2 separate regions of the Homo sapiens genome follow, and region 2 is linked to region 1. Evidence: fine-mapped expression QTL. Tissue or cell type: gastroesophageal junction. Region 1 holds a variant in brackets; the other region holds the start of a gene. All regions are shown on one strand. Distances are between the middles of the regions.

Region 1 (2,762 bases):
AATATCCTCATTTTGCAGGTATATAAAAAAACAAAACTGAAGCACAGAAGGTCAGTTAATTTGCCCAACAGTCATAAAGATAATGGTGGAACTTACTGTCTTTATCTCTGCTTCTAATCTTTGTTTAAGCTCTCATCTCTGGTTTTCTGCCACCTACAGGAAGGTTGTGAGTGAGTCCATTCCATTTCAGGTGACAGTTATAACTAGTATCTTCGGAGCACTCTGTCATCTTTAGGAATAATTGCAGAGCAATATAGTAGTAATTCAATAAATGTCTCTAAGCCCCCCATGAGGTTGAAAGGGCATAGAGATAAATGAGATATGGTCCCAACCCTCTAGAAGCACCCATTCAGAAGACAGTTTTGATAGCAAATCTACCGTCAGAGCCAAGAGCAACACACTTGACCTCTTTGTTTGAGTTACAAAAGGGCACCCCACTTTCTGGCTGACAAAGCTCCACACCAGAACATAGAGAATACTGCAGGTAGATCAAGAGCTGGATTTTGCTGGGCCAAGTGGCTCATGCCTGTAATCTCAGCACTTCGGGAGGCCAAGGTTAACAGATTGCTTGAGCCTAGGAGTTCGAGACTAGCCTAAGCAACGTAGTGAAACCCCATCTCTACAAAACATACAAAAATTAGCCGGGCATGGTGGCACATGCCTGTAGTCCTAGCTACTCAGGAGGCTGAGGTGGGAGTATCCCTTTAGCCTGGGAAGTGGAGGCTGTAGTGGGCCGAGATCATGCCACTGCACTCCAGCCTGGGTGACAGAGCAAGACCCTGTCTAAAAAAAAAAAAAAAAAAAGAAAAGCTGGATTTCATCTCTGCCTTTATAAAACAGTCCTTTTATGCAGTGTGAAAACTACACAACAGTATGTGGTATCTTCAGTTCTATAGTTGGTACCCAAATTATGAGCTTGTGGAGATCTATTCTTTAAAGACGTGCATGAAAATATTAGATGCATAGAATTTATGGAAACATGAATCCATATGTTAGAAAATATGGGGCAGTGATGGAATGTTCTACTATTTCATTTTAATCCCAGTATCAATAAAGGGTAGGAAAACAGATAAGCCTGTGGGAAACAATAAAGTATTTGAGAGGAAAAAAAGAGGAGCAACAAACGGAAAACCAAAACCAGTGAAGAGGGAATGACTGAAGGCCCTATGGAGAATGAGCACTTCCTTAATCTTGAAACTTTAGGAAAACGTAATATGTCTATTGTAAGCAAGTACATACAGAAATGTTCCCAGGAATGACTTTGGGAGGCTGGGCCACATTTGCGTATTCCAGCAATGACTATTTCACCTTTGCTTATAAGGCTGCATTTGTCATGAGACCACAGTATTCTTGACCACTCTATAATATTACCCTCATCAACAAAAACAAAAATCGTTTAGGGAATTCTTTTTTTTTGAGACGGAGTCTCGCTGTGTCACCCAGGCTGGAGTGCAGTGGCGCGATCTCAGCTCACTGCAATCTCCGCCTCCTGGGTTCAAGCGATTCTTCTGCCTCAGCCTCCCAGGTAGCTGGGACTACAGGCACGTGCCACCA[C/T]GCTTGGCTAATTTTTAGTAGAGATGTGGTTTCACTATGTTGGCCAGGCTGGTCTCGAACTCCTGACACTGTGATCTGCCCACCTCGGCCTCCCAAAGTGCTGCGATTACAGGCGTGAGGCATGGCGCCCGGCCTAGGGAATTCTTAAGATTAGCAAAATAATGAGTCTAACTACTAAGCGGTACACATTAAAACTTGAAAATATTGTCTTTCTTGCCCTCAAAATGAATTACATTTAAGAAGATAATGTAGGCTGGGCGTGGTGGCTCACGCCTGTAATCCCAGAATTTTGGGAGACCGAGGCAGGTGGCTCACTTGAAGTCAGGAGTTCAAGACCAGCCTGGCCAACATGGCAAAACCCCATCTCTACTAAAAATACAAAAATTAGCCAGGCGTAGTGGCGGGCGCCTGTAATCCCAGCTACTCGGGTGGTTGAGGCAGGGAGAATTGCTTGAACCTGGGAGGCGGAGGTTGCAGTGAGCCGAGATCGCACCAGTGCACTCCCGCCTGAGCAACAGAGCGAAATTCCATCTCAAAAAAAAAAAAAAAAAAAAGAGAAGAAGATAATGTATAATACAGGGTATAGATAACAAGTGCTATAAATGGTGCTAAAATTATGGATTTTGGAAATGCAGGGAGAAATCAAATTACCTCTTACAACCAGGGGAAAGACAGAGAAAGGCTGTGCTTTCAGCTAGCTCTTAAAGGAAAGGGTACCACTTCAAAAGGCAGAGCAAGGCAGGGTGAAGAAAGGAAGTACATTCCAAGTAGAGAGAACACTATGATGTAAGTAAAGGAGGCAGAATTAAGTGTAAGTGGTGGATTTAGAGAAAATCAGTATATCTGTTTGACAAGGATAGTAGAAATAATAAAAGTGCCTAACTATGGCAGACTGTGTTCTCCCAAAATGAATGCAGTGAACAGCAATATTTTCAGTTTCACATGTTATTTATTCTATCCGCCATCAAATGGTGGGGTCTCTTTCCCATCTCTTTAATCTGGGTTATGACTGGTTTATGTCTGTTTCAACTGAGAAAGTATAGTGGAAGTGATGCTATGTGACTTCCAAGTCTAGGTCATAAAGGATATAGCTTCTGCCTGGCTCTCTCTTAGGACATTCACCTTTGGAACTCAGCCACCATGTGTGAGGGAGCCCAGGCCACAAGGAGAGGCTACATGTAGGTGTTCCAGTTGACAGTCCCAGCGAA
Region 2 (2,762 bases), 81 kb after region 1:
CCATTTTAGCCATGGTTAAGTGTACAGTTCAGTGGCATGAAACACATTAATGTTTAGTTTTAATAAAATATTTGTTAGCTTCATTTTTTTTTTACATTTCACATACATGAAATAAGCCAATCACAAAAAGATAAATACTACACAATTCCACTTAAATGAGGTTATCTACAGTGATCAAATTCTTAGAAACAAAAAGTAGAATGGTGGTTACTCCGGACTGGAGGAAGCAGGAAATGAGAAATTGTTCAGTGGATACAGATTGAGTATCCTCTCTGAAGATTTGTATATTTAAAATTTTTTTCTTTATCTGATTGAGTTGATTTGAAGAATCAGTTTTTGAGCTCTGAGATTCCACAGCTTGATCTATTCCTCTGTTAATGCTTCCAACACTATTATGAAAATTTTGTAGTGAATTTTTAAATTCCAGTTCAGTTTGGTTCTTTTTAAAAATGGCTATTTTGTCTTTCAATTTTTGGGTCATTTTTACTGGATTCCTTGGATTGGGTTTCTACTTCCTCTTGAATCTTGATGAGCTTCTTTGGTATCCAGATTCTGAATTCTATGTCTGTCATTCCGGACATTTCAGTCCTTGCTGAGGGGCTAGTATGCTTATTTGACGTTTTGAATTGCCAGAGTTCTTGTGCTGACTCTTTTGAGAGGGCTGGTGTTCCTTTGTCGTCTTGTTTTTATATTATTCATTTACCTTGAGGGCTTAACTGTGGTATATGTTGAGTATAGTCAATTGGCTTCATTTCTGGATACTTTCAGAGGGCCAAGGCTCTGTATGGGATCTTTGTGGCTAGATTCTTGCTCTGGGTTTTACAGGTGCTCTATACTGGCAGAATATTTTGAAATTGTAATTTCGGCGGCAAACCAGTAGATGGCGCTTAAGAGTAATTGCCGGCAGGCTCTGACTCAGCGCTGGCTCTTTGGTATTTTGTATTCGCAGTCATGCTCCATAGTTCAGGGGAGAGAGATGATCCTTTTGCCAAGTCCTCTCCTGGCCCTTAGAGGAGCCCCCTCCAATCACTGGAGCTGCACTTACGTTTCCTTTGTTAGGTGTTCGGAGCTGTGGGGGCTCTCTCCGGCAGAGGCTAAGGCTTGCAGACAGGCCGCAACCCTTCCCTGAAAGGCCCTGAGAGAGACAAGTCTCATCCCGCGCTGGCCCACGAACTGCTTCTCACTCCTCCCAGTGTTCTGAGTGGAGGCTCCTCCCCCGCGCTTGCGCACCAGCCACAGGTCTCAGCTGGGCACTCCTGAGCTCTGTGCTGCAACCTTGGGGCATTGGGCTCTGTCTTTCGGCCCCTCGGGGTCAGACCCCTGCTGTGTTGGGGGATCCGAAGTGCTCCCAAGCTGCCTGGAAAGCATTCAGGCGGGGTCGCTAGCAAGAACTCAGGCTGGGCAGCGGAGGCGGCACAGTGCACACACTCCTGCAGGAACAACCAGACAGGGGCTTTGGGAGGGGCTGCGTGCAGGGGGTCCCGCAGAACATATGCGCCCCAGTCCCGCAGGAAGGACCGCCCTGCTCTCTCTTGGCTCACTGGTAAGTTGAGGTCAGATGGGGAGCCTTGGGGGATAGGCGCCTATAGCCACCTTCCTCTGCAGCTGCCATGCACACAAAACCCCCTGGGCTCCCTGCAACCTGGAGCTCTGTCTCTGCCTACTCCCTGGGCAGATCCCCCTGCCAATTCAACTGTCTGTGGGGGTCATAGGATCTCTTATAGCTGGGATCCCAGAAATACGTGAGGAGAGTGGGCTGCCCCACTGTCACTTTACTCAACCCTTCCCTAGGAAACGTTCTGGGCCTGGAACTAGTCCTGGCACTCACCCCGCGCAGGGTTCCCAGCTTCCTTCCTCTTCAGCCTCGTGTCTGTGTGGCCGCTCTGTGGACTCAGCGTTTCACTGCGAAGATCTGCTCAGAGTGTGTTGGTTTACGGGATATTTTGGTGTCTCGGTGGGAGCAGCACTTATTGACTGCATCTGTTATTTTTCTGGGAAAAATCATCTAATCAAGATGTTTCTGGGAGCAATGTAACACAACAATTCAAACGCAAGAAGGCATCTCATCTTGAGCAAATAAATAGGAATAATGCCAAATGCTTTTTATGTCTCAGACACTACACATGTATGAATCTTTAAATAACCCAATGCACTACGCTTTAGATTTCTCCCCATTTTACAGATAGGAAAAGTGAGGTACAGAGAGATTGTAGACTTTGCCCAAAGTCACACAGCAAGTGAGTGGTGGAGTCAAGTTGGACCCAGTCTGACTTCGGAGATGACTACTTACCCATTAAGAGCAGGTTCCTCATTAAAAACGAGGATAAAGACCTTGTTAGTGTATTCAGAGTACTAAGGGGAAATAATTCAATCTAGGAACCTAGACCCAGCTAAAAATATTATTTCAGTCAGGATGAAATAAAGATATTTTAAAATAAAAACTGAAAGTGTTTATTATTTACAAGTTCTATCCAGGCAGAAAGACCTAGTAAACAATAAACTTTAGAAAAAAGATTATGGAAATTCAAAAGAGGATGAAAGAAGAAATGGAAAACAAAGAAATTGGTAAGCATGAATAGGTCAAAATATTGACTGTGAGAGAAAAATTAGAATGTTAAGTTTTAAAGGAAAGTGGAAGAAATATAATGCATAACAACATTAAATTGCTTCATGAATTGTAGACAATAAAGACTTCTGTGGGAAAAAACCACACTCAAACTCAAAGTGCTTTTTCTATTCTCTCTCTTAACAACAATCAACAC

Alleles and levels. Alleles are on the strand shown, and positions count from the first base shown. SD is a standard deviation of normalised expression in the study named.
For the expression in gastroesophageal junction of the gene that starts at base 1,246 in region 2, T is the high allele of the variant in region 1 and C is the other (small effect, 0.36 SD a copy in GTEx).

Evidence for each region. PIP is the estimated chance that this variant, and not a neighbour inherited with it, causes the effect.
Region 2: TSHR-AS1 starts here. The variant in region 1 is fine-mapped to the expression of TSHR-AS1 in gastroesophageal junction (GTEx, PIP 0.92).

The regions. Positions count from the first base shown.
Region 1 is chr14:81,249,878-81,252,639 of GRCh38, reverse strand. No RefSeq gene overlaps it. Among named protein-coding and RNA genes, the nearest start is that of GTF2A1-AS1, 30 kb to the right of the region's middle. The variant C/T (reference allele first, on the strand shown) is at 1,555.
Region 2 is chr14:81,168,890-81,171,651 of GRCh38, reverse strand. TSHR-AS1 (TSHR antisense RNA 1) reads left to right here and starts at 1,246. Exons shown (of 9, transcript XR_007064290.1): 1 at 1,246-1,543. LOC105370594 (a long non-coding RNA gene) reads right to left here. Exons shown (of 2, transcript XR_944073.3): 2 at 1-1,991. RefSeq lists enhancers at 872-1,241, 1,462-1,521.